2 separate regions of the Homo sapiens genome follow, and region 1 is linked to region 2. Evidence: fine-mapped expression QTL. A gene starts in region 2. The other region holds a variant in brackets. All regions are shown on one strand. Distances are between the middles of the regions. Region 1 overlaps LMO3 (LIM domain only 3). Region 2 holds the start of LMO3 (LIM domain only 3).

Evidence for each region.
Region 1: its variant is fine-mapped to the expression of LMO3 in subcutaneous fat (GTEx, PIP above 0.99).

The regions. Positions count from the first base shown.
Region 1 is chr12:16,574,212-16,586,880 of GRCh38, forward strand. The region is part of intron 2 of LMO3 (LIM domain only 3); the gene reads right to left. It also overlaps a transcript of MGST1 not described here. Among named protein-coding and RNA genes, the nearest start is that of LMO3, 26 kb to the right of the region's middle. The variant C/A (reference allele first, on the strand shown) is at 4,814.
Region 2 is chr12:16,599,013-16,611,681 of GRCh38, forward strand. LMO3 (LIM domain only 3) reads right to left here and starts at 7,150. Exons shown (of 4, transcript NM_018640.5): 1 at 7,054-7,150; 2 at 1,643-1,856. The coding sequence starts at 1,848. RefSeq lists enhancers at 5,584-6,084, 10,973-11,472.

The DNA.
Region 1 (12,669 bases), 25 kb before region 2:
CACATTGATTTAAATTACAGGGACCTTGGAACAATGTATAAACGATGACTCTTTAAACCTTTTATTTTTAAATGAAGTTGCAGATGCAGGATGTCTGATCAACGAAAACGCCTGTCTCTCGGATAGTGATTTAGACACCACACGGTGTGCAGAGAGGAGAGACCTTCTGCTTTTGAACTTTGAGTCCCCAGTCACGGATTTGCTGCTCTCCAACCTAAAATCTCCTGTGACAGATGGCATAATAGATATTCCCAACAGCCCAGACTAGCAGGCTGATATTACTTGGTATTTTTTCTTATAGTCTTTCTGACAGGTTCAAAGCACTTAACCAATGATGTGTTTTAGGTAGGGGATAAAAGGTGACTTAGGAACTTTCCCCCTATTTGTACCACTTTTTAAATTTTAAATCTCAGTTTTCTTACTGACACAATGGAGCTAATTCCTATCTGTGCTCTGTTAACTGCAAGACACATAAAGAAGAAAAATGGCTTGTTTCCAACCGCAAAGGATTTATCGGCCATTAGAAAAGAAAGTCTTCTATAAATCTGTAATAGAAAAATTAATCCTTACCATACATTTTGAGAGGTGGTAGGTGGCATCCATTCTGTGAGTGGGGAAACAGAAGTATAGAGAGGTAGCAGTGACATGTCTAAGATCTCATAGTCATTAACAGCAGTGATAGAAATCTGGCCGAGTCCGAGTCTATGTGTTCTGATACCTAGAAGGGTGCTCCCTACATAAGGCACCTCCTTTCTTACCCTCAATTGAAGTATGATACATAGTATGACAAACTAGTAACAAAAAGAAACAAACACAAAACACACAAAAGAAAAGGTGTTTTCGTTTGTTTATTTTTACCTAGAAAAACATAACAGGGCAATCTACAGTATTATGTAACCTGGTACTGACTTCCAAGTTATAATCTAAACTTAACATTATGATGTCCGTCATGTTTTTATAAAAAGCTCCCTATTCTCTTTTGCAGCTCAAAATTCATAAATAAACCCATATGAATAAAACCCCACTAAAATGGAAGCTTTGTTTATCTTCAAAAATATAGGCATAAGGTCAATTTCCACACACTAAACGTCATACTGTCTACGAAGCCTTTTTAATGGAAAAAGCAACTAAAAGACCAAGTCCTCTCTGATAATGATACCTCCGCAAATTAGACAAATTAGTCCAAAGATTTCCCTTTGCTTACATTTTAAAGAAACATCTGAAATCAATATCAATACGAAATTTGGTCAATTATGTAAGGGCTTAGTGTATAAGAGCTAATGTTTATTGAGCCCTGTCTCTGTACCAGACACTGTTCTAAGCATTTGACACGAGTTATTTCATTAATCCTCAGGACAACTGAATGAGGCAGGTTTATTCATCCATTTTATGGATGAGGAAAATGAGGCATGCAGAATTATGTAATACACCCAGCGTCACATAGATAGATAATAGGAGAGCTGGACTCCACACACTGAGCCATTTAGGATTTCCCCTCTTGTGTCAAGAGAACAACAGAAGGAGCCTCAGAGGCTATTCACTACTACCTCTTAAAGATCACTTTTCATGTCCTGACCTGTAGGAAGTGCTTATACATAAAGCTAAATTCTTCACTTTCTACTCACCAGGGCCTTACAGTCTAGTTCTCCCTACGTGACATCCTTCTCTTCTGCAGACTACATTACCCTCCCTCTCCCCATGTTCAATGCACGTAGAAATGAATGTCGGAACATTTGCAAGTCCCTCGAGCCACAGGTCTTGAACTTAACTTTGAATTTGCCTCCTCTTCTCAGACCCCCAAATCTAGCCCTGCCGCTGTGTTAAAAGGGGATCTGTCCTCTTTTGTCTCAGTAAGCTACTTCTAGCGCGCATCGCTTCTCCCTTGCACTCATACTACAACCTCCCAGCTGAACATCTTTCCACCAGCCTGCCCTGCCCTGCTGTCCGCCTTCCACTCTGCAGCCGGTAGCCTTTCTATAACACAGCTCCAACCCATTGATCCTGCTTATAACCTTCCATAGCTCCCCTACTGTATGCAGGATAGATGCAGGGAAGCATGAAAGGTCCATCCTGTCTGTCTTCTTTTCTGTCTTCTATCCCATCACTGAGCCTCAGCCCCAATGTGCTGTCTACTCCCTGGACTCAGCATCTACTTTCACACCTGATGTCCTACCACTCCTGCCTGCTGAGTTCCTACTAAATCTATTCTTCCTGGAAGACTACTGCTGCTTTTTTTTCATATTCAGATCAAATGTCAATGGATCTATGAAGCCTCTCTGATTTCCTTGAGGCAGAATAAATAACACACTTCTTTAGACATTTAAGCACTTGTTTTCATATACTACTTCATCTTTCAGAATCTGTATCAGTTACGTACCTGTTTGTCTCTTTCTCACTACATAATAAGCTCCCTGAAAACTTGCCTTCTCCTTTACTCTGCACCTAACACATGTGATGTTCATATGCTCCATAACTGCTGAATTAGAATGTAGAGATATATAAATGGAAATTAACATTCTTGCATTGTCCAACTATATAGACTGCATACAGGGATTTTACTTATGACCCCTAGATTAGTACCATCTATTTTTAAATACCATTTTAAATTCAGTGTACAATGGACATAAGACCTGTAGGTGGAAGTCAAAAATAAATTACTTAAAAGCTGTTACAAAGAAATGATTATACCACCCTCCCCACGTTCTTTCCTAAACTATCTATTTTAGAAATAACCCAATAAGGGCAAAGCTATATGAGTAAAACTACACTGGAAGCTTGCTAGGCAACATGAGAATCTACTTGCTGAAACTTAGCACCAATTCCATCTGTCTTTGATCACACTCAAGATGGTTTAGGTGCCAACACATCAGAATTCTAATATTAGCAGATGCAGAAAACTTGTGACTGGTAACATCTGTATCCCTCATATCTAGTGATATTTCTTTACCATCATTACCCCATTACTCTAAAGAGTTAACAAACAGCATGATATTATATACCTAACTTAGGCAGACAGTCAGAAGGTGCACCAACACCCACCTGAATTCTGAAAGGCCGTAAACTTTCTTCTTTTTAGGATCATCTCCTAAATTTCCTTTTCAGCTTCTAGGACCATCTCTTATCACAATTCTTCCATGAAGGCCTCCTAAATAAGCTGAGTTATTAAAATCACATTTTCCTAAGTAGTTGGCAGTTATTCTTCATTATTTTCATCATATAGGTTGTCATCTTATTGCATTTATTTCAGCATTCCTAAATATATTATTCTACCCCACTCCCTCCTTCTACCCTCCAGTCAATATTTATTGAGTACCTATTATCAGCCAGATTTTCTACTAGATGTTGTATATAATAAAACAAATAAGAATTTCCCCTGTTCACAAAACGTTTGTGGTATAGTTTTGGAAGAGGACAAGTAAGAATAATAACAAACAAACAGAAAGGACATTCTCATCTCATAACAAATCATTCTGCACACATCTAGAGGAGAATTTTTTTCCTTAAGGCAGTAATTTCCTCATTTCACTCATCTGTTCAATAACTTACAATGGCTCCATCTCACCAACATAATAATATTCAGGTTGCCCATGATGGTTCTCTGGATCAATTTAACAGGGCCACAGTTCTTTCTAACTTTCTTCTAAATGTGTCACCTAATTATGGCTGCCAGATTTAGGATCACAAATTATTTTATGTGACATTTTTAGACTAAAATAATTATCCATTATTTATCAGAAATTTGAGTTTACCTGGGTATCCTGTATTTTGTCTGGCAACACTACAACTAATTCCACCATCTCATTTGGAATTAGATGTACAATGGACTCCAGTCCTCAGTAGGCAACAACTTTCATAAGAAATATATTCTGTCCTCATTGCTCACGGCACCTCATCGCCTCCCAGAAGTCTTGCCAGGCAACAGAGACTGAGTTTTTCTTTAAACTCATAGTTTCATGAAACTTAGAAAATGTTAACTAACTACCTAAAGTGACAGTACTGCAATTTTCTCAAATTCATGTACAATGAATGTTTAGGGGAATTCTAAGAGAATTTTTTCTTCCAAAGCTTGTATAAACTACTCAAGTTTGAGAACAATTGTATTTTACTTAGCTTACCTGAACAATATAAATTAAAAATAACTTCCTACTTTTAACTCTACATGGGGTAGAGGGAGAAAGGGGAGGGGTCAGGTAGAAGGGATGGAGGAACAGGGAAGAGAAGAAGCAGTTGTGCTCTCTTTGGAGTAGATGGTCTCAGGCTGGCCCATGCTCAGGTCTGACCTTAGGTATAAAAGTTTCAAAGTATTAAAATAAAAATCACATTAGGCCGGGCGCCGTGGCTCATGCCTGTAATCCCAGCCCTTTGGGAGGCTGAGGCGGGTGGATCACTTGAGGTCAGGAGTTCGAGACCAGCTTGGCCAACATGGTGAAGCCCCATGTCTACTAAAAATACAAAAATTAGCCAGGTGTGGTGGTGCATGCCTGTAATGCTAGTTTCTTGGAAGGCTGAGGCAGGAGAATTCCTTGAACCTGGGAGGCGGAGTTTGCAGTGAGCCGAGATCGAGCCACTGAACTCCAGCCTGGGAGACAGAGCGAGATTCTGTCTCAAACAACAACAACAACAACAACAACAACAACAACAACAACAAAACATTAATTCACTAGAAGAATATATTCAAGGAGAAATAATTCATGGTTCTATACTTAACAAAGTCTCACTTGAAATAAAAAGAAAAGAAAAAGTTCTTTATTCTAATGAAGTATATTGCATTGTTAAGGTCTAGTATATTACATTTGTACACACTCTTGACAGA[C/A]TGTATCATTGCAAATAGGTGACCTTTTCCAACCCAAACACTCTCTAGAGCTTAGTTTTTTAAAAAGGCACTGATTATAAAGGTCATAAACTTCCACAGGGATTTTTTTTTGAAGAGAACAACATGTTTTCTCTTCTAGCATTAAATTGTATATATATATTCCCTTAGATACACATAATTTAGATATTTAGGGTAACCGTCATTAAATGGTTTGGCTGTTTTCCAATAGAATTAGGAAACCAAGAACAAGAATTGTCCAAATTTGTTCAGATAATTATTACCAGAAAAACAATAGCTGTGTTTCACAAGGAGGTCTTTGGTGAGCCTCAGAAAAGAAGTAAAATCAAATGTGCCTGATGCCACTGATGAGAAACAATTTTTTTGGTAGGATTTACATAACCTTCCAAGTTTACATTTAATTGACTAACAATTTGGTGATGGTATATCAGTAGCTTAAAAGCCAACGCAGATGTATAAGTGAATAGTTCCCTTGCTTCTTATTTGTCGGCATTATGGCCTAATAATTTGAAAAAAAGATTTTAGAATCTTAGCCAGGGTAATGGCTCTAAGTAAAGAAAGATCACGTTGGTGGAATCCTTTAGTTGAAGTCTTACTCAGTAGGAAGGCTGAGGCTGCCTCTTCTCTCTCAACCCCACCTAGCCTACTAGGCACTCAGTAAGAATTCAGAAAATTTTTATCTTGTTTTTCCAGTAGAAATAGCATTTCAGAATGACCAATAGATTCAGTGGCCGAGTGAATGCGATACTTTACAGAAAAATACCAGCTTATAAATGTAGAAGTGATAGGATGACAATCTAATTTTTCAACCTGTACTGATTTAGATAATGATTATCCATTGTTATTTATACCCACTAGGTTTAATTGCCAACAGAGAACCAGGTATCTGTTGGTATTTAAGTAATGTTGCACAGGGTGCTTTCTGGTCACAATGAGAAAGGTGTAACTGTACAAAAGCAGGATCAGTTTATCATCTCATGATCAATTTAAGTGTCACAAATAGTGAGATAACAGATATTATGTATTTCCTGATATTATACAATATGATATCATTTATCATGTATTCTAAAACAAAATATACACCTACGTTATTTTTATTTTTTAATAGAGATGGGATCTCTCTATGTTGCCCAGGCTGGCCTCCAACTCCTGGGCTCAAGTGGTCCTCCCACCTCAATCTCCCTAGTAGCTTAGACTACAGGTGCATGCCACTGCTTCTGGCAATATCTGAATTTTGTCAATGTTTAAAGCAACTTCTGTTTTACTGGGAGCACTAGGAATAGAAGGATCAAGAGCAAAGACACCACAAGGATGCAACCAACCAAATGAAGTAGGTGAAAAATTTTAGAGGACCACTTCTATGGTCTCTTTAATAAGTGAATGTCATGAAAATGACAATGTTCAAGATTAAGAGAAACTTCATAGACATGACCATCAGATGTAAAGTGAAATCTTGGATTGGATCTTGATTTGGAAAACCTTTGGAGGACTTTTCTGGGGACAACTAGAGAAATCTGAACAAGGATCAGGTAGTAGATTATATAAAATTTCACTAGCATGGAAAAATGTAGATCATAGTCTAAAAAATTAGGTTACAAAACAGAATGTAAATACAATCTCAATTTGATAAAAAATACATACATGTGCATAAATACAGGTAGAAAAAGATTTGGAATGATGAATAATTAGAGCAAACATTAGTAGGTTCTGGTAGAATCATGGTGATTTTGTTACTGCATTTTTGCTAATCTCTATTGTTAAATTTTTCACGATGTTCTTATAGTTGCTTTGCAATAAAAGCTTTTATTAATTATACAAAGAAACAGAATTGACCACTGTTAACACCTTATTTGTTTTAAATCTATTATGAATAAGTATACTGTGTATTGGACATGCTATATACAACACAGACATTCAGTCATCCCTCAAGTTTATGTTTGTTGTGCTATTTTATAACTAATGTTTTGATGAAATTGCAGCCACTAACAAATTTTTTTCTAATCTACAATTAATCAACATTGTAAATAGTTAGGTACAAGAAAACCATTGGTTATCTGGAGAGAAACAAAGGAAGTTCATCAGTGCTTGAGTTTGAATGATTGAAAATTCAATTACAGATGACAGGATCAATTTATGGGGACCTCGGAGTAAGTCCCTGAAGCCATGTCCTCAGTCACTAAACACTAGAGTACAGCTCATAAGGATGGGTTCTGGAGTCAGTCACACTGTCTGGATTTGAATCCTAGCTCCATCACTTGCACCTTGGGAACTTTGACTAAATGACTTAATTACCCTCAGCCTCAGTGCCTTCTTCTCTAAAATGGGTTTAATAATACTGTAGTTCCCAAGGGCTAGAGGAGATTACATCTGTACAGCACTTAGCACATATATAACTCATTGAGAATACCTGAAAAATAATACTAAAATATAAGATACATAAAGGCAAATATTTCTGTCCATTTTTTTAACTGCTGGAGCCTCAGTTCCTATAACACTACCCATTATAGAGTAAATCCTCAAGAAATATTTGCCATGATCTGAGTTTCATTCTGTTGACTTTCTTTCACAATGTTAAAACAAACACTCAAAATTCCATTGCTATTATAACAGGCTTACCATCAGTCTCATTGAGATTTTTCTGTGATACTTATCTAGCAGGGAAGAACAGAAAAATAGAGGACTTTTTTTTCAGCAGAGTTTTCCTTTAAAAAGATTTCTTCATATGAATGCTGAACTCTAAAGCATATATATTTTAATAATTGTATTACTACTCTTTATTAATTTCTTTTATATTCCTAACAAGCTATTTTTGGCATAGAATAAAACTATAAATTTGATTTACTTTTTTATTTAGCTGCTATGCTAAATGTACCTATTTCTTGAGTTTTCTCGATTTTCTGCAGATAAAATAATTATCTTTTTTACTATTTATATTTATTTACTTCGTTTTCTTATCTTATTACATTGGCTAGACCCTTTAAAACATTAAATATGAGGGACAATAATGAGTATCCCTGGCTTTTTCTTGGCTTTAATGGAAATTACTTTAGTATTTAGCTGTTTTATAAATTTGCAGTTAGGTTTCAGTAAATTTTCTTAATCATATTTAACTGGTTTCTTCCTGTTTCTCTTTATTTGGAAGTTTTGAAATGGCTGAATTTTATCAATTGCCTTTTTGGTACAGACTGCCATAACTATGGTGTTTCTTCCTCCAGTTTGATAATACAATGAATTAGATTGAGATATGTCCTGGTGTTCATTCTCTGAATTCTAGAAAACATCTTACCTGTTCCTATAGTATTATTCATTTTAGACAGTGACAGACTATTTGCTAATATCTTTCAAGTTTTTGTATCTGTATGCAAAAATAGCATTAGTGTTTTATATTTTATATTGTCTTTATCAGGTCAAGGTACTGTATTAGAGTTATGTTAGTTTTGCATAAGCTGCTTTACATATTTTGAACTTAAGCTTCCTGTGTAACACTTAATTGTGGATACTATGGAAGTGGCTAGATATACATTGCTTAAGCTTGTTGGAGAGTAATGGGCTACGGGTAGAGATTGAGCCATCACAATAAGAGGAGGGATTGAAACCATGAGGACAAATAACATCTCCTAGGAAAAATAAGTATACCACAACAAGATCACCGTTCCTAGGTACGGTCCCTCACTCTTTTAAGTATCTGATTGGGATGAGACGCCCAGAAAAGAATCAGAACTAGGCCGGGCACGGTGGCCCATGCCTGTAATCCCAGCACTTTGGGAGGCCAAATTGAGTGGATCACCTGAGGTCAGGAGTTCGAGACCAGCCTGGCCAACATGGCGAAACCCCGTCTCTACTAAAATAAAAAAATTAGCCGGGAGTGGTGGCATGCACCTGTAATCCCAGCTACTCAGGAGGCTAATGCAGGAAAATCTCTTGAAGCTGGGAGGCAGAGGTTGTAGTGAGCTGAGATCACTCCACTGCACTCTAGCCTGGGTGACAGTGCGAGACTCCGCCTCAAAAAAAAAAAAAAAAAAAATCTAAACTGTAGGGTCATGGCATCCAAGACAGTAGAAAGCTTTTAAAGAGAATAAATGATCAACACTATTAAAAGAGAAGAGAGACTGTAAGATGATCCCGGATAAAATGCCCATTGGCTTTAGCAATTGGATGTCAGTAACAGCAGTATCAGCAGAGTGGTGAGAGACAGAAGCCAGATCACAAGTGGGTAAGGAGTGCAAAGGAGGTTGAGGGAGTATGGATGACAACAACAGACTGTTCTTTTTTTTTAAAAAAATTAGACAATAGGGGAATTGATAACAGTAACATAAATTTGAGGGATAAAGCATCTTTTTACAGAACAGAAAAATCTTGGGTACAGCCATATGTTGACAGTCAAGTAATTGTAGAAAAGAAGATACTAAAGACTGAAGAAAAACAAGTTACCTCATAAAATGAAGACACACAGAATACTGGAGGGAATGGAGCCAAGGACATAAAATTGGCCTTAGAAGGAATAGGAAGACCTCATTCCCATAGATGGGATAAAAGAAATTAAAGATAAATGGAAAAGCAGATAAAATGTAAGAGGCTGATTTATATCAAACCTGATAAAAAACATCAGGGAATATCAATCTGTATGTTATTTGCTTGTTTCTAGCAATGCTTAACCACACTGTAGGAATGGATTGAAAAAGGGTAGCATACCCATGGCAATTTGTTAGACTGGAGCAGTGGTGAAAATTGAGCTAGCACAGGCATGGGAGGAGACACAGAAGATGGAAGTGAAGGGGACTTGCCTGATTGACAGTTGGGTTCATAGTGGGCAGGAAAGATAGAAGTCTTAAAGGTTTGACCAAATTAGGAGAAAGAGACATGACAGGAGAGCTGAATGTCTGAAATCAAAGATCAGTGCTATTACAAGTGAAACAGGACTACAGTGTGGAGTTTAAGATTCCTGAGATGAAATACTTTTCCATAAGGAAAAGACACTGTATATAATTCTGGGATGGCAGGCTGATGTTCAGTAGGGTCAAGGAGGCTCAACAAGTTAGGGCTTGGTTTCAAGTGAGTCATCTCTAAGCCTTTTAGAATCCCTAGAATTGTGGTAAGAGGGAAATGACAGCAGTGAGTAGGGGTAAAAGGTAGTATAATTAGATGTACGAGTTTTGTTGGAGGATGCATTTTTTAGTAGTGAGTGGGGAGAGTTATGTGTATCTAAGATTGCCAGTTTCTCCTCTTGGCTTCATGGAATGTGGGATTTACATGAGTAAGTAGTACCTTGCACCTGTTGACAGCTGAAAGAAAAGTTGCCTCCTTAAAGGAGAGGCAAGTTTCAGGTAAGGCAACAGATGAAATTCAGTTAAAACAATATTTTGATGGGAAAGGCATCTGGCCAAAAGATTGTGGACACAGCAAAAGTTATTGACAAGGACATGAGGTTTCTGGAGGACCCAGTGGAAAAGTGTTGAGTGAACGTAACAGCAGAAATATACAGAGAATGAGGAAAGGAATGGAAACAAGAGACGTTTTAGATTAACATTGGCAAGTGGAGGAGTGGGGGGGGTAAGAGGCCTGTTTAGAGGTGGATGGCCTCAGATGTCTTAGCTTTGGCACAGTGAGGGTCCCAGAAAATATCCCACTTAAGTCCAAACATATTGCAATGGCTGCCATGAAGTTCAAGAAACAGCAAGAGATTTCTTTTATCAGGACGGGCTGCTTCTCGCCTCACAAAGCAGTGCCAAGACTCCTTGTTAGGCTGAAAGCTCCCAGGAGATTTCTGAAGCAGGAGTGTAACTGGTATACATTGGATGAAGGGCTCTGATCCTCTCTTCAAGAATTCAGGATGCGAGGAAATATTTTCAAACACCTTAGCGAACTGTACACATTAAAGGGCCTGATCAGTTATCTGAAACCAGAATTTTATGATTCTGACCAAAAAGTTACATACTAGTAGCTGTGTGCCACATTAGAGTTAGTTGCCAATGTCTTATATACAAGAGATTTTACTGAAATATCTAGAAAAAATATCTGGTTTATCCAGAAAAATCAGCAACATTAGGCCCACATTCGTACAGTGTGCTGGAATTAAGTCATGGCTTCCCCCTTTGGGTGGCGCATGCAAGCCCCAGTTCACAACGTTATTTTTCCTTCCAGACTCCGGAACCTGGAGGCAATTGAGTTTGTAATTCCCGTCTTAGCCCTTGGCAAGATAAATAATTCAGCCTATTTTATTTACATTCAAGTATCATGGTAGAAAACAAGTTATTGATTACTGCTTCAAGAAAAAGGATTTGCATATTTGTGTATATATTTTTAAAAAGTGGATTAACTTTATGTTAAACAATCACTTGGCCACAAAGATTAATATTAACCTATATTAAAGGTTATTTTTGCTACCATCTTCATCCTACACAGTGAGCATAAATGTTGTTTCAAATATTGTTCCCAAATATTATTCAAATTCACCTAATTTTACATATAATTGCAGATTAGAAAACTAATTTCATCACAATCTCCCCTTTCCTAAATTCCTCTCACTCAGCTATCTGAGCATCTCTCATGCATCAGGCCCTATGTTCCCACCTGTATTTTCTTTCCGTTGAAGTCCACCCATTCCAATTATTTAAGTGATTTCATTTGAATGATGTCAAAACTAATCCTCAGGTGATGTAAGCAGCTCCAAATATAATAATAGAAAGGAAAATATGGGTGAGAAATTACAAAAGGCTGGAGAATCAATTAACATATATACTTCTAAACAATTGTTAGAAAGTAAATTTGATCTGGGCTTCCCAGGAAACAAAGAAAAGAGGGAAAATGTCAACATGTATATGATTCACAGGCCCAAGTAAAACATCATTTAGTCATTTATAGTCTCAGAAATCTTGCTTATCCTAAGATCTGGGCGACATTTCACCAGTGAGGCGGTAGGACATTGTGTGATACAGTAAACAAAGTCCCCAATAGCATCCTTAGGACACTGATGTTTTTGCAGCTGTTAATGAAAATCTTCAACACAGGAAAACAGCAAAACCTTGATGTACAATTCCATAAAAATTTTTGAGGGGCCAAAACAATAGGGGTCAAGATCAAAGACACAGGGAAGGATAAATTAAAAACCATCACAAGGAATAATTCAACATCCAGTTTTTCAGGTAATCTGCCATAAATACTATTTCCTTCAGATGACTTCTTAAAACATAAGAATGGAAAAGCAGCATTTGAAGTTGTAATCTCTGGCAAGAACACAGAGTGTTAAGATGTCATGATACGATGAAGTCCACATACGGAACAACTAAGAAACAACTAAAACACGTGCATGAATGGAGAACCACTGCATGGCTGTGGCAAGGAGAGCGGAGGATCCTAATCTTCCCCAGCAAGGCTTTCTGGTTCTCCTCCAACACACAGCTGAGTCACAGAGGCCCTGGACAATGTGTCTGGACAAATCTCACGCTAAGCATTATCTTCTACGTCCACAGAAAAAAATCTGTTGTATAATATTGTCAGATTCAGGCCAACTGAATTCTGGAGGACATATGCAAAGACACTGCATTTCATCTTTGGACGTCCTTTCTTGGCAGGACCACTTGTCTCCCAAAGCCTGTCCTAGGATGTGGCAATAAGGCTATACCGTCGGGGTAGAGATTTCAAGATACACATCTTTTGACCCCCCATTGCAGTAGATGATGTTTTTTTCCATTTCTCTGGTACTTGAGCTAAGCTCCTGTGGCTCAGATTATTTATTGCATTACTTTTGTAACCTTTCTCCCAAAGGAACATGTAAGCCATACACAGTTGGCATCAAATATTACTGGATGACAGATTTGTTTTTAAAATGGTAAAATTAG
Region 2 (12,669 bases):
ATGACTATTGGTTAGTACAGATAAAGCAAAACTAAAAAGCAGTATTAAATCACTAAAAGCAAATACAAATGCTTTATGTGGAAATGAGGCTCTAATTCACAATGGGCAGAAGAGAAATTTTTATTTCAAAGAGGAAAGTTCAAAGACCGGAGAGTTCTAAAAAAATGAACATTGTACATTAATTTTGATTCGTTGTGCCAACACAATGAGGGAAATCCTGGCTGGAGAGAGTGACTTCTCATTGTTGGCACCTTGCATGTGTTTTACGCACTTGGAACACAGAGAAGTAGTAACAAGTGGCCATAATTAGTCAGGAGGCTGTCAGATGAGGCCGTCCTAAGAGCGAGAAGGAGTAGAATCTGATAAACAGTACCGCTTTCACCCTCTTGTAACTACCATTAATCAAATGATATATTTTTATATCTAAAGATTGGATCTGACTGAAAATAGCTGAATTATATACTAAGAACGACCAAATTCCCTAGAAAACACCTCATCAAATGACCAAGGTACTAAAGGAGTTACCATTGATTGATAAATTTTGTCATAAGGGAAAAAATTCCAAATAAATCGCTTAATGTCAGACCAGAAAAATGATAAATTGTATTAAATATGAAAATCCCAATGATGCCATATATCATTTCTCTAATTTGATAGATCCTACTTTATTAATATAAGTAATTTGCAGCTGAAGTAAGTCACAAAGTTGCCTGAAAAGCAAAATAATTTTCCTTCAGCAGAAATTCTGTGTTGAGTACTTAATGCTGGAAAACAAGCTTTAGTAGGCTTCATAGCTCCATAACCAAGAACACCTGCCTTGTCCTGAAAGCATTCAGATGTTTACAGGTTGGAGAGTGGCTGTCATTTTCCTATAATGATGGAGGTCTTTACTTTGTTATTATCCATAAAACTACTGGCAAGTCTGAGGCGGTTCAATTGCTTAGTTGTATTTTTGAGATTCCCGTTTAGAATGTCATGAGGTGGGGCGAGAGGAAGATGTATCTACACTTGGGGAAAGTTTTCAAAACTCTACAATAAATGCACTAATAGATATTAACCAAGGATTTGCACCTGACTTCCTCTGACACACCTGAAACAGAGAAGACAGCTGAATAACTTTAGAAGACTAAATTCAGGTCCAACTTAGAGGCAACAATTAAACTCTTTTACACAGTCCATTTTTTTCAAGTTGAACTTTTTAAAAATAGTTAAGATATTTTGCCAAATGGCTGATCAATTTCTTTGTGTTATGCTCAACCCCCATTCCCCCTTAAGCTCCAAAAAAAAAAAAAAAAAAAAAAAAGAAAAAAAAGAAAAAATAAGTAAATCAACCTGAATGCTGATTTCGACCAAATACATCCTTGACATTAACTGGCAGTTTCAACATAGGCAGCGCCATAACCAACTGCCTGAGTGTGCAGGCAAGCCAAATTGAAATACTTTAAATATTGTGGTTTGTTGGCTATTCCTTAAGCATTAATTTGAGTAACACACACAGGGCAACGCTTTGAAGGCTGACAGGTAACTTCTTTCAGGAATATAAGCTGGCAGTAAGGAAATGAAACAAGCAAACAAAAAATACACTTACAAAAGTACTTTAAAAGGCATCCAGTCATCACTGGTGTGCAAGGATAATTCCTACCTCAGATAGTCTCTGCGACAAAGGATAAGATTAGCTTTAGTGTACAGGGTGGAGCCCACCTCTCCCAAGCGACAGTCACAGCAGGCACACTTCAGGCAGTCTTCATGCCAGTATTTGTCCAGTGCCTTTAGAAGATACCGGTCCTTGATCTTTCGGTTGCAGCCAGCACAACCTTTCGGCTTGGTGTCTGGCTGGACTGAGAGCATTTGTATACCTAAAGGAAGACAAAAGCAAAAAAGAGAGCTGAGACTACCAGACAGAATAAAAAGACCTCAAACAAGTTAAATATTTAATATTTCCTTATTCTAGGAGTGTTAGCTTTTCTTGTTTAGGGCTATACTGAAATCAAACCCAATTTTGGAAACAAAAAGTCTCAAACTTTATCAAGTGCTTATTAAATCATTCAAAAAGTTACACATGCCAAGTGACAATAATAATAAATTCATGTTGACCATGGTAAATTGACATTATAAATATGAAGTTCAATAACATTAAATAATTTTATAGTATCTTCATTCTCCCCATAGAGCAGTTCCTTTAGAAAGAAAATGTGAGTAAATAACAATCTGAAAAGAAAGCTATTTAACAAATTAATCTATGCACAGTCCCTACAAGTAAAAAAATGAGTTTTGCTTAACTGTTTAAAAATTTCACTTAATATGTGCTTGATGGTGGAAGGAGAGGGCACCTGGTATGGGGTTACACTAACCTTATTCAGCAGTAGAGGTGTTTATAGTTAAGTACACAGAACAGCTACCCAAAAAGCTCACCAATCCTATATTTCTTGCTTGCATCCAAATACTTCTTCTATGTCCTTGATATTTCAAAGTATTCATTGTGTTCAAATATAACATTTATACTCACAAGCATCAGTCAGCACCTATATTAATGGCAGATTACTTAACTATATACTATATGCTTTTATGTAAACCTAAAGTATATGATTATACCATTTATTACCATAAACATGCAATTATTTGTTTTATAAAGGAAAGAAAAAACAATAGAAGGCAAGATCTAAATATATATACAATTATACAAACATATATAAGTAAATATATACATGTTATATGTATACTATGCTAAACATAGAAACATTTATATATTTTAAAGGTATAAATCCATCATAAATAAGGAATCCAGCTGGATTCCATGGGCTTTACAGTTTGATTGAAATCTTTTGAATGAATGGACATTCACCTTGAGTGTCTTCTTATTTCCTAGGTATTAAAACACCCAGCTTTAGCAAGAAGCTGGACCAACTATCCAATGCCTCATATTTATCAAATAACTCATTTTAAGCACTATAAAGTACTGCAGACATCATCAATTCCAAATTCCCTCATTTTACAAATTATGTTACCGAGGCCCAAGAGAGGTTCAGAGACTTGCTCAAAGCTGAAAGACAGTTACGCTATAGACTCCAGCCAAATGGCCTTCTTACAGTCCAGAGACCCTTCTGCTGCATTATGTTTGCTCTCCTAGGCATAAAGTTTTAAACTTGCATGTAGAAGGATACAAAACACCAAATGTGCATGCATTATAGGATAAGAAATGTCAAGCTATAATCTGCACTTTTGTACATTTTCCTTCTCCAAAACAGCTAAACCTCCTCCAGTTTCCTCTGATATCTTATGATGAAGGCTTCACCCCCATCACAACTTTCACAACCTTTTAAAAAAAAAATCCCACTGGTAAGAGACATCAAGGCATCCGCAGAGCGGAATAACTTTTCTAACTACAAATAATACATGAGTTGCACAAAATATTGTTAGGATGTTGAACTTTCATTAGAAAATAACTCGTCTGGTAGAGTTGTGTAGGGAATGGCAGGAAATAAAGCAGAGTAGCTGTTCTTTCTTTCTGCATCATAAGCATAGCTGTAGTCACCGGAGCTGCAGACTAACAGCTGGATTTGTAAGAAGAGCAGGTGGTATCCCTATAGCCTGCTTTCTGTTCCTTTCCTTTGAAGGAGCTAAGGGCCTAGTGTAGATTAATCATAACCCTTGATAGCTCTGCTAAATCTCACTCTCTAGAACTTCTAACAAATGAAGTTTCTTTGATCAGAACTAGTTATCCTCTTCTAGCAAGGTTCCACAAGGAGTGAATCCCATTAATTACAGTGAACAACAGATCCAAGTGCCTGTTAACCACATATCTAGGGGGAAGGGGAAGTTTTGATTTACTCAGTGAAATTCTGGATGGTGTTACTGAAAACACCTAGATAATAAATATTAAGAGAAGCCATTCTAATTAAGCCATCCTAATTAACGGCCATTCTATTAAATTTGTAAGGCTATTATTTTTATTTATCACAAAGCTCAAAGATGAAAAATCGAAAAAAAAAAAAATCCCAGTAGCAGCTAAGTTATATTTCCCACAGTTGTGTTTCTACCATCAAGCATAGAAGGTCAGCTGTTTTATTCAAAATGCTTTGCAACCAAGACAGGGGATACCAACATTTGGCACAAGTAACACTACCCTACTTGTCTTCACAAAATGTTTTTGTTGTGTTGACATTTTAATTTAGCACTCAGAGGCCAATTAATATTTGAAACTCTTACATTCTGTTTGGCCTTGGGCATAAAAGGAGTTTGATATTTCACACTCCATCCTGGTACCTTATTTGAAGAACATCATGGCAATTCTCTTGAAAATGGAATCTCTTGAATTCCATGCAAGTTAACAATTGTAGCAAAAGAACTATTTTGTAGTCACCATGTTACCGTGTACTTAAAAGGCATAAAGCAGTCAGCAGTCTCCCCTCTTCCACCAGAAGAACATGTCTGGGTAGAGTTACGTGTTTGTAGCTAAGAAACATTTCACAAGTTGCTCATAGCACATCAGAACTCATAACTAGTTTTAGATTGGCATGTAAATTGTTCTGAGGGAAATTCTTATTGCCTCTGAGACCCTGCCATTCTGAGTTATTTGACAGTTTAAGGGAAATCATAATTAAAAAAAAGACATAAATAATAGCCTGTGCAGTGTGGTGTGCAGAAATAAGTAGAACCATTTCATTTAAACTCTGGTGAGCTTTTAATTGCCTGGATTGCATTGTGAAGCGGCCTAACGGTTGATTGCCTCCATTATGTTCCCTTGTTCTGTACCATTCATCCGCACAGTCTCAGCTTCAGTAGTTAACACAACAAAGTAACCACAACTCCACAACACACAGGGGTTTAAAAAAAATAATAATAATGAAAGATTTGCAGCACTTAGACACAGTCTTACATTTTTGGACTAACTACACAGAGTGAATAGAAAACATTTTGTCCGTCGGAAAATTCACAGAGAACAATTTGGGAGAGGGAAGAGGAAGAGGGAATACATAAAGGGGGTTGGAAGAGATGAGGTGCTTCAGAAAGATGCTAAAATGGGAATGCAGGTTCTGCAGCTGGGAGCATTGACACAGATTAAAAGAATTTGGCCAACATGGCCATTCGATTGCCAAGAGGCACCAGACAAAAGATTTTCTCTCCTCCTGCCCATCTTCATCCTCTTCCCAGCCCCCAACCCAGGTTGGAAAACTGGATTGGGCCTAAAAGCTTGTTTCTCTCTGTTCACTGGCCCAGAGCATCCCTACAGGCTGCAGCCCCCTAAGGGACAACAATGCAAATAGATGTCCCCAGATCTCAGGCACTGGAGCTGCTTAACTCTGTTCTGCCCCTTCAACTCCCAGCCCCCTTCCCTATCCTTCACCCCCCTCCCCTTTTTGAGCAATGGAGCTGGGAACCAATTTGATTCCCTTTTTCTCCAATGCAGCTGCAAGGCTCAGAGATACTGACATTTTTCCACTCTTATCAGTTTAATTACAGTTACCATGGCAGCAAAGTGCTAGTGCTTGGCAAAGGCCAACAAGAGATTTGCAAGACTGAGTTCAATTTTGATGCAGCTCACATGCAAAATAAAAAAAAAAAATAAGAAACATACATACACTCTAACAAAGAATCCCTTGCGGAGTTTATGCTCCAGCCTTTTGTGGTTGTGTCTTTGCAGCCACACAGGGATGGTTTGCAAAGAATGTAGCAGTATTTGTTGCATCTAGCAAGATTAATTGGTTTAAGCAGCAGTCTTTCAAAGCAGTTACAACAATAATATTTCGGTTCTTTCAGAAAGACACAAAAGCAGCGGAAAAGCAGAAAGGCTTTTGAGCGGCCAGGAGTGCAGAGCGCCAGCAAAGTGCATCTATGATAGACTGTAACCTTACCAAAACTTTTCTCCTTTTTCTGCATGAGTTGACTTAGGCGTGTCTGAGTTGCAGCAGCTTCGCATTGAGCACCAAACCCAAAGGTAGAAGTAGAAGGGGGTCTCCTTGATTTCGCTTAAGTGTGGACCTGGTGCGCAGCCTACACCGCCGAGGACCGACTATTGTGAAGCCACTTTGGGAGCGGGTCGGAGTGGCGGCAGGGGGTGGGGGAAGGGATGAGGACGGCCAGACAAGACAGGGCGCACACACGGAGCCCCTCGCAGTGTGCAAAATGATGGCGAATGACAAAGCCACATGCTTCCCTAACTCTGCCCGTAATCCTAAAATCCCAGCGGCCCCTTTTAGCTTCCTGGTAACAAATGGATTTGATTAAACTGTCACATGCAGCGTTAGCATAGCATATCATGTTCAATATGAAAAAGATCATAAATCTGACTTGTATTTCATAACAGCAATCTGAGTAGTCCCCGTAAAAAATGTGCTGCATCAGTTTGAATCTCAATCTATTAGGATATAGGCACCTTGGTCCAGGGACCTTCCCTCTTCTAGCCACTTCTGCCCCTACCCGCCTGCCCCCCCCCCCCGCCCCCATGCCCAAACACAGCCACTTTTCCACGGCAAAGGAACAACATTTTGTTATTATGGCTGCGTGGAGAGAGGCAGAAGCGTCAACAAGGACCAAAAGATTGTAATATCAACTCTTTAAGAAGTGGGGGTTCATGAATTCCAGCAAGTAAGGGGGAGGGGTCCGGAAACCCACCCAGGACTGAATTCTTTTCCTATGGGCTGGGAGCAAACACTTCCTAATTCCAAACTCTCCCTGCCCCTCTCTCCCCGGGAGTCAGGGGTGTGGAAATACTGCAGTTCATGGTGAACTTTGACTATTATCCACTCGAGTCGTACTTGAGACGTTCCGCGCCGCAGCCGCTCTCCCTCCTTCCATCAACATCTTCCGCCTGCATCTATTTCATGTCTCATCATAAAAATAATGAAGCCTCACATGATTTAAACAAAACCGTCTCAGTAGAGCTGCAGCCCGAGTGAAAGTTGCAGTGCGGAGCTGGGTTGCAGCTCCAGTTTATGCCTCATTAGCAGAGGTTGGGGAAGAAAAAAATACCCACATCCGCACACGCACGCGCGCACCCGCAGACACACACACCACAAATAAGCCGACGCGTGTGTACACAGTTGCTGCACTTACCTTCTCAATTAAGCGATACAGGGGGAGGCCGTTCAGTAAGCACAGTGGCTGCTTTGTAGCGCTTCTCCTTGGGAAAGGTCAAAAAGAAGCATTGTTTGAAAAAAAAAAAAAAGACGGGGGAGGGAATGTCTATTTTTTTTTAAGTTTAAAATAATGAGGTCCTCAAGGATACGCCAAGCAATGGTGTTGACCGCATCTGAGCCACAGGTGTCCTCCTTTTAGGCAACTGCAGTCCGAGGCTGTCTCTCTCCGTCCTGGTTCAAGACAACTTACCCCAGCAGCGTGCGAGGAGCCGAGCTGAAGGAAGCTCCGGCTCTCAGCTGCAAAATGCAATCCCTTCCCAGCCAGACATAATACAGCCAAAGAAAAGGTCACTCAGTTATTAGTGAGCCGGCGGAGCCCAGGCAGCGCTTGTCAAGACCACAGAGAAGCAGCTCCCTTCCGATTTAAGACTATTTACCTCTCGCCCCCACCCCTCCCCTCTTCTTTCCTTCTCTCCCTCCCTCTCTCGCTGGCTCCCTCGCTCGCTCTCGTGTGCCTGTTCTGCAGCTCAGTCAAGTACAGCCGCCCTCGGAAAGTGCAAAGCAGCCACGAGACAGATCGGGCTTTGTTGCTAATTTCCCAGGGTGAAAATTTACAAGCCTGCGAGTGCAGTCAGCACAACCACATGCATATGCTACTCACAAACGCTGGGGACAAACCCGCACACAAAATGTGACCTCTGCAGGAGTCGACTGAGGAAGGACCCTACCTCCTGGACCAGTCCAAAAGAAGAACTCCTGCGAGAGAGCTCCGGAGGAAAAGGGTAGGGTTCCTAAAATAACCAGGGCATTTTGGAATAGGTGGCTACATTTAAAGCAAATTGCCTTCCAAAGCCATTTCTGAAGCTACCAATTATGGAAATTAAAATAAAAGCAAGAGAATCAAACTGCTACCAGAATACCCTGGAAAAAGCACACAACCCTCCCCTTTAAGAAATGCCTGGAGGTGGCTGCAGTCGCTGGTCTGTCTGTGACTTCCATTCATGAACTCTCTGAAGTCGCTGCTCCGCAAGTCCGCCACACAAGCCTGGTTCAGGGGATCACACACACACTCTCCTTCCTCCCTTCCTCCCTTCCTCTAATGGCCCAAGACCCAAACTGTGAACTTGTTCTCCATTCACTAATGCTGACCCCCACCACCACCACCCCGAAACACACTTCCTGCAATTACTTGAATTCCTTACTATTTAAAACTCACACGCTCCAATGAAAAACAGCCAACAGCACTGAGAAACATGTTTTCAGGACTAACTTGGTCAAAGAACCATAGTTTCTGCACCATTACTGCTTTGTCTTCACAGGCTTGTTTTAAGGCCTTGACAGATTTTTTTTTTTTTTCTAATAGGTCCCATTCTCTCTAACCTCCTCTCCTCTTAACTTTCCTTGGCATCTATAAAGGCCACTGGTAGCTTTAAAATACCTTATTATTTTTCTAAGTTTTCAAACTTCAAAGTCACCCTCTGTTTGGGCTGCTCTTAAAGTACCCTCACCAGATTTTACAAAGCTTTGTCAGAGGTCAAGCTTAAAAATGGTCCACATTTGAAAGACACTCACTGAAATGTTTAAGAGCCAAGAAATATTCAATTGTTGAACTACAAAAAACTTTTTTTCTTCTCTTCACCATCAGTTTTAATCTAGCTCTAGTTTTAAAAAAAAAATCAAAGCACCCCCCCCATGAGTATTTAAGCTAAATTTTGTTTTTCTTCATAAAGAATAAAGGCACAACATTGATAACTAGTTTTTACCCCCTCCCTTTTGAAGGCTCATAATAAAATAGCCTGTGGTTTGCTTTCCTCTCCCTTTAAAAGGCAACAAAACTCAGAACTAACCTGAAAAATAACGATATTCACAGACGGTAGATTAATGAGAACCCCTTAGTTGACTTGTTCTGTACATAGGCAGATTTCTTAAGTTTGGCTTTTCTGGCCCGTCTAGGCAGGCATACATGCACTTCACCCATCCGCACAGCTCCCCACTGTTCTACCCCACCTCTCTGCTACAGCCACTCTGAAAACACCCCAGTATGTGTGAGTGTGTGTGTGTGCATATGTGTGCATGCATGTGTGTGTGTCTCGTGCGCTCTGTCTCAGCCAATGCACTGAGAAGAAGAAAAGAGGGAGGGAGGGAGGGAGAAGTATGTGTGGGGAAAGGGAGAAATAAAATCAAAACAAATGGTACAGCTAATGAGGACAATTAAATTAATTATGTTCAAGGAGATGAGATTTTTTTTCCCTCCAACTGTATGATCTGTTACCCCTCGCTGGCAACTGCTGCTCTGTAATTCATGGCAACTGATTAGTGCATCTATGCAAATCTTTGTTTAAATCATTCAACTAATTAAATGATGGGATTATTCCTCTGCCTACGGTGACATCATTCGCGGTAATTAGTACTCTATTTGGACTGTGGCAGTAAGATTCCTGATATCAACACCAACCTGCAAAGACATTAACCACTTTGTCACCTTTTTCTTAAGGGACAAACACCCAGATCTCTAAGTGCATCCCATCCTCTTCCTTTTTCCCCAATCTTCCTTTTCCTCTCAATTTTACCATTTCCCCCACACTTATAAGCAAGTAATACTGCCAAGCAAGGAGGAGAGAGAGAGAGAGAAGGAGAGACAGAGGAGAGAGAGAGACAGAGAGAGAGAGAGGAACTTAGCGAATAATATGCCAAACCACATGTGTAAAGGAATAAAATGGAATAGTTAACATTCAGCTCCATGCCATTCATTTTCCCCTAAAATGTAATGATAATTAGATGGGTCATAAAATGCTCTTCTTTTCATTATGACTGATGAAATGCATTAAAGCTGACAGGGTATTACCTGACAGTAATTAGGTTTTGTCATGAATTAAATTATTTGAAAGCAGGCTATCTCCCCAATCACGCAATTTACAGCAAGATTTTTTTTAATCTGTGCTACAGAAGGGAGAGAGATAGAAAATAGCAGTTTTTCTCTTCATAATCATATGAATTATTCACAGAAAAAATCATCAGAAAAACCCCGTGCAGATGAAGAGGCTTGCCACTTAATGTACTGCACAGATGTGATCATCAGCGGTTGCCGACAATGAAATATACAAGTGCACACAAAGTGATCTGGTGAACAAGAGGTGGAATTTAATCATCTTCTGCTGACACTTTGCGAAAAACACCATTAACCCTCAGCAAACTCCCTGTTTTCCTGGCTCCCCCCAACCCCAAAGTCTCACCCCTCCCGCGAGGGAAAAAGTGAAAGAAGAATTTGTGCTTTTGTTTACTCAGCCAAGCTAAAGGTTGGATCCAGCCAGGCAAGCAGTTTCTTCATTTCCTGAGAGTAAACTACCCAGTTTAATTACAGATCCTTTGGAAATCTTTGCGAAAGGATTGCTATAAAGAGCCAGATCTTTTTGGTCCGATTACCTTTTGCCTGTGCCCTCTTTCTGCAACTCATCATCAGACGTTTGATGAGAGAATTTACTTCATCCAGCCCCCATCCCAACACTTATTAAAGGAAAAAAAAAGGCAGACTGTCTTCTTCAGGGGTCTTATATTGTGATACCTTGATGAGGGGAAAAGGGGAGGGGAATGACAAAATGGGGTGGAGGAGGGTGCTGAGGGGGTGATTAGATATATACTACTTACCTTTGCCCAAAGGAGATCTCCCACAAGAAAATAGTGTGTATATATGTATATTTCTAAACACGTCTTCAAGTTTTCAGCTGTTTCTTTCTTTAAAACACACCTCACAGATTACTTTTGTGTGCGGGTGTTCAGTTACGATTTCTGTGGCGTCCCAGAGATGCTCCGGTTAGGTTGCCGTCTTTTTTTTTTTTAATTTTTTTTTTAGGGCAGCAGACAGGTTGTTGGGGGGAGGCAAAGGATAGCACACCCTGAAAGTCCAGGAGCAGTGAAAGGTCTCGGTCAAGGGAAGGATGAGGTTGATACTGCCCCCACCACACACACTCCCACCATCACTCTTCGAAATTCAGCAACACAAATGAAAGAAACCTCTGCTTCAGGCTTCCTGTCTTTCTTGTGTGCCTCTCCCTTTCTCACTTTCTTCCCGAACTGCATACAAAACCTGAGTGGGCCAGAGCTGCTCCTCCAGTATTTAAACACCTCGCCAGGTCCCTAGTTAGCAGCTTCCTTCAGCTCATCCAAGAAGCTGACAAGTACTGTTAGAGGAGGCTGTACATGTTGCTCTAATGGACCTCATTAAGTTCTACTTACAGATGTTCTCTTAACATAATTGATCTGCGGTGAGTTGAGAGGACTGCAACTTATTCCCTAGCCCCCAATTATGGTTGGGTAATTAGATCCCCAACCTCCAATTTTTCACATTCACCCTTCTAACATTCCAAAATATCAAAGTATCTCTCACCAAAGCTCCCCCTTACCGGACTCCACTCTACTCACTGTATTGACAGTTAGATCTGCTCTAACCTTTGTAGTGACGCCAGTTTTAATGGTGCATTCAGTCCATTGACAGAGCTGTGTTTTCTCCCCCAGCCTCTCTTCTCCTTTCCTCTCCACACTACCACCCCCACCCCACCCCCTTAACCCTCAGAAACAAAAGGGTAAAAAAAAAATCCTCTAACTTGTATAGTTTGTACTTTTGATAAAAGGTTTCAGTGATGAGCTTTGGCAGTGGTGCTTCCTTTCTAATGTCTTTTTATCTGTATTAATTCCTCAGATGAAAACTTTAAGGAACAATGAAGGAGAGAGGTAGTGCTCTGAAACGGTGAGAAGAAAAAAATTACACAGCACACCTGGGACAGATGAAGCCAAACTAGTGCTTTTATAATGCCAATCAGCAGGGCTGTTATCATCCCTCTAATTAGGAAAGCAGCCTAAAACAGAGAGCACTTGGGGAAATGGTAATGTTATGGTTTTGCACTTAAAAGGAGAGACATTTCCTGCACTGTAAGAATCTAGGATTGGGGCTGACAAGTCCTTTAATTAATGGGCAGGATTCCCTGTGTGTGCAAGTGTGTGTGCATGTTTTAATTCATAAAAGTGGACAAAGGGTGTTATGAGGAGGAGGGAAAGAGAGATGGGGGAGGGAGGGTGAGTCCATTAGGTTGAAGATGAACAGAGTTCATAGCTACATTCATCTTTTTTTTTTTAACCCCCACAGGACTGAGGTGCAGAACTGGAGTGAGCTGTTTTTCTAGGAATTTGAATGTTATACTGAATAAAAGCCCCAGGCCATAAGGCAAACACAAAGTTTGAGAGAACCCATATTTCAAGTTGGCAAACCCCTGTGTCTAGCTTGCCCCTGGTCGCTATCTCTTTGGGTTGGTGTTTCACCCAGCTCCTCTGGGCTTTGCTGTAGACTACTTTCCCACACACAGGTGCCTAGGATTCACTTTCATTTTGCCGTGCTAAAGAAATATGTAGCTTAAATAATTCCAGCAACAAGATTACTCTTACTGGTAAAAAAAAATGTGGACTAGTATCCTAAGACAAAGAGTTAATATTTGTCTTTTTGAGGGTTTTGAAACTGAACACTTTGAACCTGGCAGCATCGAGTTCTCAATACTGTTTTAAATGGCTTTTTAACACTTAGGAGAAATTCTCCAATGGCTCT